Linked DNA regions of Homo sapiens. The protein of the gene in region 1 interacts with the protein of each later gene in a pairwise test. Each region holds a gene or a part of one and is shown on either strand. Other genes may lie near its edges.

What was found.
Region 2: the proteins of SPAG9 (region 1) and RAB8A interact in binary tests that used the Homo sapiens proteins (3 or more experiments, as listed by UniProt).

Annotation. Positions count from the first base shown.
Region 1 is NC_000017.11:51,113,756-51,117,868, reverse strand, and holds part of SPAG9 (C-Jun-amino-terminal kinase-interacting protein 4), read left to right. Parts: intron 1-4,113. UniProt on the Homo sapiens protein: The JNK-interacting protein (JIP) group of scaffold proteins selectively mediates JNK signaling by aggregating specific components of the MAPK cascade to form a functional JNK signaling module.
Region 2 is NC_000019.10:16,123,729-16,127,328, reverse strand, and holds part of RAB8A (ras-related protein Rab-8A), read right to left. Parts: exon of another isoform or gene 1,860-3,600; coding exon 1,782-1,859; exon of another isoform or gene 342-1,781; intron 1-341. UniProt on the Homo sapiens protein: The small GTPases Rab are key regulators of intracellular membrane trafficking, from the formation of transport vesicles to their fusion with membranes.

The DNA.
Region 1 (4,113 bases):
AGCCACCACACCCGGCCATCAGTTTTCACATAAGATCATAAATTGTGTGTTGCTCAGTATCCAGAAATTGTCTCCCTTTGGCCAATATGTAGAGTGAATTCTGTGTTTAGTTTTCTGTGAGTGCTTTGTTTGCGCCTTTTTTTTTTTTTTTTTTTTTTTTGAGACGGAGTCTTGCTCTGTCACCCAGGCTGGAGTGCAGTGGCACAATCTTGACTCACTGCAGCCTCCGCCTCCCGGGTTCAAGCGATTCTGCCTCAGCCTCTTGAGTAGCTGGGATTACAAGCACGTGCCACCACGCCTGGCTAATTTTTTTGTATTTTTGGTAGAGACGGGGTTTCACCATTTTAGCCAGGATAGTCTCAATCTCCTGACCTCGTGATCTGCCCGCCTCAGCCTCCCAAAGTGCTGGGATTACAGGCATGAGCCACCGTGCCGGCCTGTTTGTGTCTTTAATGCGGAGACCAAGAGTCTTTTATACCAAAGTAAGTGCCTCAGGGTATTTACAGCAAAAGTGATTTGAAAGCATGGAAATTATCCATCACCAGAGAGAGTAAAGTAAATTCTGAGCACCTCTGTGGAAACTTAGGTGGGTATGTAGATAGAATGTTTTAGGAATGTGTGAGGTGCTATGATCTCTTGCTTGCAGGAATTCTCAGCAAGGCATCAAAAATTTAATCTTTATATTGATAGGACATATTTTGAATACCTTCTGACTTTTTCCTTTGCTTTTATTTGAATTTCTAGTGTGGAGCTAGTCTGCTGTTTTAGGGATTCTTTAAAAACAACCTAAAGAAGGGCTAATTTTAGATAGATTTGGACCGGTTTCAGATGCTAATCAAGAAATCTGTCATCTTATCGCCCATCACTCTCTCCTTTGGGCTGCCTGTGACACACCTCTCCATTCTTTAACCAAGACCCGTCTGATGCCTTTGCCCATGCTCTAGAATGCTCTCCTTAGAATTTTACATAGCTAGCTCCTCACTTTCTACTCTGTTTCAATTTCACTTTTTCAGCCAGAACATCCTGTTGACTCTATCCAGAATAAGCCCTGTGAACCTATTGAATAATTTATTTTAAAATCAGTGACTTTTAAATTTAAATTCTTTTTGGAGACAGAGTCTCAATCGCCTAGGCTGGGGTGTAGTGGCACAGTCACAGTTCACTGCAGCCTCAATCTCTTGGGCTCAAGTGATCCTCTTGCCTCAGCCTCCTGAGTAGCTAGGACCACAGACATGCGTTACCACACTGGGCTAATTAAATTTTTTACAGAGACAAGGTCTCACTGTGTTGCCCAGTCTGGTCTGGAACTCCTGGGCTCAAGTGATCCTCCTGCCTTGTGGATCCTGCCAAAGTGTTGGGACTTACAGGGGTGAGCCACTGTGCCCCAGCCCAGTGATTTTTTAAAATAAAAATCTGGATACAAAATGATCTGGAGAGAGAGGTTATAACTGGGTATGTTAGGGTTTTTCTGCAACTTCTGATTCTTTTAAAACAGGCATGATTTGCTGTAACTTTTAAAAAAGGGCCAGGTGTGGTGGCTCACATCTATAGTCCCAGCACTTTGGGAGGCCGAGGCAGATGGATCACTTGAGGTCAGGAGTGTGGGACCAGCCTCGCCAACATGATGAAACCCTGTCTGTACTAAAAATACAAAAATTATCTGGGTGTGGTGGTGGGTGCCTGTAATCCCAGCTACTGGGGAGGCTGATGCAGAAGAATTGCTTGAACCCGGGAGATGGAGGTTGCAGTGAGCTGGGATCGTGCCTCTGTACTCCAGCCTGGGCAGTAGAGTGAGACTACCTCTCAAAAAAGAAAAAAGAAAAAAAAAAGAAACTTCTGAAAAGTAGACATACGAGTTTAAAGAACCTTTAGGAATTTAGTTCTTAGTGATTCTGTGGGTCTTTTATGTTATCACTGTTATTCTCAAAGTGAGAGCTCATTTAGCATCATTCAGTAGAGGGAGATTACACATAAAAACGAAGAGGCATTGTCTTCCTTCCTTTTCTTTTTCTTTTCTTTTCTTTTCTTTTCTTTTTTTTTGAGATGGAGTTTCTCTTGTTGCCCAGGCTAGAGTGCAATGGTGCCATCTCGGCTCACTGCAACCTTCGCCTCCTGGGTTCAAACAGTTCTCCTGCCTCAGCCTCTCAAGTAGCTGGGATTACAGGCATGCGCCACCACGCCTGGCTAATTTTGTATTTTTAGTGGAGTTGGGGTTTCTGCATGTTGGTCAGGCTGGTCTTGAACTCCTGACCTCAGGTGATCCGCCCGCCTTGGCCTCCTAAAGTGCTGGGATTGCCACTGTGAACCACCGCGCCTGGCTCCTTCCCTCCTTTTTGAGATAGACTCATACATGCAGAGAATGGACTGAAGAGAGAATATCTTTACTGGGAATGGATTATGTGATTTTGTGTCTGCTTTTTTGTGGCCTTTTGCTTTAAAAAAAAAAAAAAAAGGATGAGTTCAAGCCTGGGCAACGTAGTGAGACCCCTCTTCCCCAAAAACCATAAAAAAAATTAGTTGGGTGTGATGGTGTGAGCCTGTAGTCCTAGCTACTCAGGAGGCTAAGGCAGGAGGATCACTTAAGCCCAGGAGTTTGAGACTGCAGTGAGTTATCATGGCCACGGCACTCCAGCCTTGACAACAGGGCAAGACCCTGTTTCTTACCAAAAAACAAAACAATAGGATGACTGAATGCAGAGGTGAGAGACACTACTGAGAATTTTCTAACTTGTTCCCATGGAATCAGCACTTAAAGCAGTAACAAAATGATTTTTGTTTAAATGGAGACTTTTGACACTTCTTGTCTTTGGAAGTGTATGAACATGGGACCCGTAAGACTCATGGGCAGGAAAATAGGTATTGACATTCATTGTTCTTGTTTTAGTGTTCTCATTCATTCATAATTTTTTTTTTTTTTGAGACAGAGTCTCACTCTGTCACCCAGGCTGGAGTGCAGTGGCACTATCCCAGCTCATTGCAACCTCTGCCTCCCAGGTTCAAGCAATTCTCCTGCCTCAGCTGCCTGAGTAGCTGGGATTACAGGTGTGCACCACTACACCCGGCTAATTTTTGTATTTTCAGTAGAGACAGGGTTTCACCATGTTGGCCAGGGTGGTGTAAAACTCCTGACCTCAAGTGATTCATCTGCCTCAACCTCCCAAAGTGCTGGGATTACAGGCGTGAGCCACCACACTTGGCCCACACTTGATATTTTATTTTTTAATTTTATTTATTTTTGAGACTGAGTTTCACGCTCTGTTGCCCAGGCTGGGGTGCAGAGGCACGATCTTGGCTTACTGCAACCTCTGCCTTCTGGATTCAAGCAGTTCTTCTGTCTCAGCCTTCTGAGTAGCTGGGATTATAGGCATGAGCCACCATGCCCAGCTACTTTTTGTATTTTTAGTAGAGATGGGGTTTCACCATGTTAGCCAGGCTGGTCTTGAACTCCTGACCTTGTTATCTGCCTACCTTGGCCTGCCAAAGTGTTGGGATTACAGGCATGAGCCACCATGCCTGGCCCATTTTTTAAAAAATTTATTTTTGAGACAGAGTCTTGTGCTGTCGCCCAGGCTGGAGTGCAGTGGTGCGATCTCAGATCACTGTAACTCCCACCTTCCAGGTTCAAGCAATTCTCCTGCCTCAGCCTCCCTAGTAGTTTGGGATTACAGGCACGCGCCAGCACGCCCGGCTAATTTTTGTAGTTTTAATAGAGAAGGGGTTTCACCATGTTGTCCAGGCTGGTCTCAAACTCTTGACCTCAGGTGATCCCCCTGCCTCGGCCTCCCAAAGTGCTGGGATTACAAGCGTGAGCCACCGCACCTGGCCTAAAAAACACATATTTTAATATTTTTATAGATCTTTTGATTGATTGATTGAGACGAGATCTCACTCTGTTGCCCAGGCCAGAGTGCAGTGGTGTAATCCCGGCTGACTGCAACCTCTGCCTCCTGGGTTCAAGCGATCCTCCCATCTCAACTTCCGGAATAGCTGGGACTACAGGATCATGCCGCCATGCCTGGCTAATTTTTGTATTTTTTGTAGAAATGGGTTTCCCATGTTGCCCAGGCTGATCTTGAATATTTGGGCTCAGACATTCCTCGCACCTCAGCCTCC
Region 2 (3,600 bases), on another chromosome or scaffold:
TAGGTACAGCCTGGTCTAAGGGACAAGCTGAAGCTCAGAGAGGCCAAGCAGCCGGCCCCATGTCACACAGCCAATGCCAGGGCTGGGGCCAGGGTTCTAGCTGCTACTCTGAGCAAATGCACATTTTCTGAAATGCTTTCTGGCAGCTTCTATGGCTGTATCAATCAAGCCCCCGCACCTGGGATGCTGGGCGGGTCTAGCCTATGGGAGGTGAGTGAGGCTGAGATATTTACCCCCCGACCTTGGCTTTCCTCCTTCCCTCCCTGGCTCCTCTGCAAGAGGCCCCAGCTGTTGTCCTGGGACCTTCTGCTTTGACACTTTTTTTTTTGTTTTTTTTTGAGATGGAGTCTCGTTCTGTCTCCCAGGCTGGAGTGTAGTGGCATGATCTCGGCTCACTGCAACCTCTGCCTTCAGGTTCAAGCGATCCTCAACCTCCCGAATAGCTGAGATTACAGGCATCTGCCACCATACCAGGCTAATTTTTTGTATTTTTAGTAGAGACAGAGTTTCGCCATGTTGGCTAGGCTGGTCTCAAACTTCTGACCTCAGGTGATCTGCCCGCCTCAGCCTCCCAAACTGCTGGGATTACAGGCATAAGCCACCTCGCCTGGCCCTGACATTTCAACTATTTTTGGGCTCCAGAAACAGGCCGTGCCTGAGGTGGTCGCAACTCGAGGCCGTCACCAGCTGCAGGCACTTCACCACCCTGTCTGATGTTGCCCAAACTCTGCCCTCATACCCAAAGGCAGCTCCTTCGTCAAGTCTCCCTGGGTCCCCATGGAGCGGACCACGCTTCCTGGAGGACGGGGACACTGGAAACTGCTGTCTTCTTCCACCAGCTCAGACTTGGTCTCTGGAACCTACTGCGCCACTCCCTGCCTCACTTCCCATGAACCAGAAGGTGGCTCCTGCCCGCTGGCCAGAAACAGAGACCTTTCACAAAGACCAGGCTCTCCTCCTCTCCACGGATGAAGACAGCTTTCCCAGCTGGGGTGCAGCCCTGCACTGGCAAATTTGGCAGCACAGCCCTCTCAGGGTCACTGGGGAGGTGAGCCCAGTGCAATGACTCACAAATGATGGGGTGGCCTCTCGGCCTGGCCTGGGAGGTCCATGAGTCCTGGGTGGACAGTGATATGCCCTTTTGCTGTGGTTTTATAGATGGGAAAAGTTCTCTGGCTGTGCCTCAGACCTGAAGCCCCACATGGTTAGTTATAGAAAGCTGCAGGTGCCGGCAGCCAGGAAGGCTTTGGGGGTGAGGTCAGCTCTTTGGGGAGCAGAAGATGAAGATGCTGGCTTTGGGAGGGGAGGAGGGGTTGGCCTACTTCTCACTGCTCTATGGTTCAAGGTCTGAACACAGGTCGTTTGTACCAGGTCACACCCTGCTCCGATATAGCTCAAAGTACAACTGACGCCTGCTCACCACACCCTCCAACTACAAGGGTCACACCTGTGCTAGACCCTTCCTTCTCTAGAAAGCACCCAACACTCATGGTGACCACAAGCTTGGATATCCTTTCTCTTATAACCATGACACTGGCCAGATCCAACAGCCTAGCTGGAGGGATGGGCTCCGAGGGGCTCCGGGGTGGGGCCAGGCCAGTGTGTGGTCCCTGGGGCCGGCTGCTTGCATCTCAGTCCCTGCTCCCACCATGTCCCTGACTAGGAGGCTGTGGGCAAGTGGCCTGTATGTGTCTCTGCACCTTGGCCTTCTCATGAGTAAACCAGAGGGCTCTGGGACAAGGACTGAAGCAGGGACAGTGGGAGGAGCCGGAGGGCCTCACCTCCTCAATGTTGCGAATCCAGTTCCGGATGTTGTCGAAGGACTTCTCGTTGGTGATGTCGTAGACCAGCATGATGCCCTGCGCGGGGAGAGAAGACACAGGTGCCTGATCGGCTGCAGGCTCTGGAAGGGAGGCCTCAGCGGCACCAGAGAACAGTGGTGGGGAGCCCAGCACCCACTGCACAGCCAGGCCCATTAGCTGCCGCCCTCCCCACCTCTGTGGAGCCCCGGAAGCCAGCCCCCTCCTCTCCATCCCTGTGGCCCTTCTTTCTGCTGGGTTCTGGCACCAGCCTTGTCCTGCCCCCCGGGCCGCTGAGGTGACCCTTCTGCCTCACAGGCCAGCCCCTGCCACGCACTCGCTGACAAGCCCGGCTGGCTCCCCTCATGGCCCACGGGGTGGTGCAGCCTGACGGTGGGAGCCGGTCCACAGGCCCACTGCCAGCAGCACTCCCCTCACGCTGACCCTCCCCTGCAATCGGCCTCCTCTTCACCCCTTGCTCACCCCACGCTCTGCCTGAGCCACCTACCAGGCACAACTGAGCCCAGGAAGTCCTGACCCGACATCCACACAACTTCCAGTGACCCCACCACAGAGGGAACCGGCTGTGTGAAGATGGAGCCGAGAGTGCCAAGGCCCTTCCAGTTCCCTAACCTAGACGTGAGCAACTGGGAGACGGCTCGTGGGTCCTGGAAGAGCTTCGGGGCAGCCCCGCCTCAGCCTGGGTCCACAGCCTCGCTACTGCTGTGGACAAGCGCAAACATGCCCATGCGATGCAAGGGGAAACTGAGGCACAGAGACGTGACCTTTAAGATTCAAGCACGGGGGGCGGGGGGGGGCTAACTCCAAAAGCACTGATGACACCTATCCTCTCAGCAATATCCCTGGGCCTTTTTCAGCCCCAGAACCCACATGTGGGGGCCACCCTCTGACGGTCTGTGTGGTTCTCGATGTCCTTGTGGAGTGCCCACAGCGGGCCAGCCTGCAGTGCCATCACAAGTCCCCCTTTGTTGCCGGGCATCCTGGGCTCCAAGGCACGTGGCCTGCTCATGGCCAGGCCTGGATTTCTTCCTTCCTCCTCGCTACCTGCTCCCCAGGCCCAGCCCTGCATCTGTGGCACCTGAGGGCACTGATGACTTCTGCTGCTGGCCAAGTTGTCTGGGGCCATCCAAGTTTGCAGAATAAGGACACGGGCCATGTGGTAATGGTGAGACAGATGTGGGTGCAAGAGTGTGGGACAAAAACGACACAGATGGGGCAAGAAAGTCACTGCAACCCCAAATCCTCCTGGGAATTCAGGGACATGAATAATGGCCTCACAGTCAGCCGCAACCATGGCGAAGAACCTCAAGGCTGCAGTGGCCCATGATGTCTGCCATGCCCCATCCACGGTGGGCACACCCTGTGACTGTGACATGGTCAGGGACAGGGGGCGTGGGGCCCTTTATCCGGGGACTGGACCCTCTGAAAGCCCAGGATTCCTGCCTTCACCACTAAGTTGGTGACATGTGCCTAAGACTCAAATTCCTGGATTATACCTATTTCAGGGAGCTGAGGGGAGAACCTGGACGTTAGTGGGGCAGTGGGTAGAGCTCTCTCTTAGAATCAAGCAGAAGCACCTGGAAAACACTGAGCCAGCCATCCTATTCCAGGTTTTCCTGGAAACACCCCTCAGGGCTCCAAGTGACTATTTTCCAGGGCCCCGTCTGGGCAAACCTCACCATGGGTCTCTAGGCATCCAATGCTTCCCAAACTTGGGATTTTGAGGCCCAAGGGTCTATGAGCATGCTGACAGAGATGAGGACACAGCTGCAATGGTGGT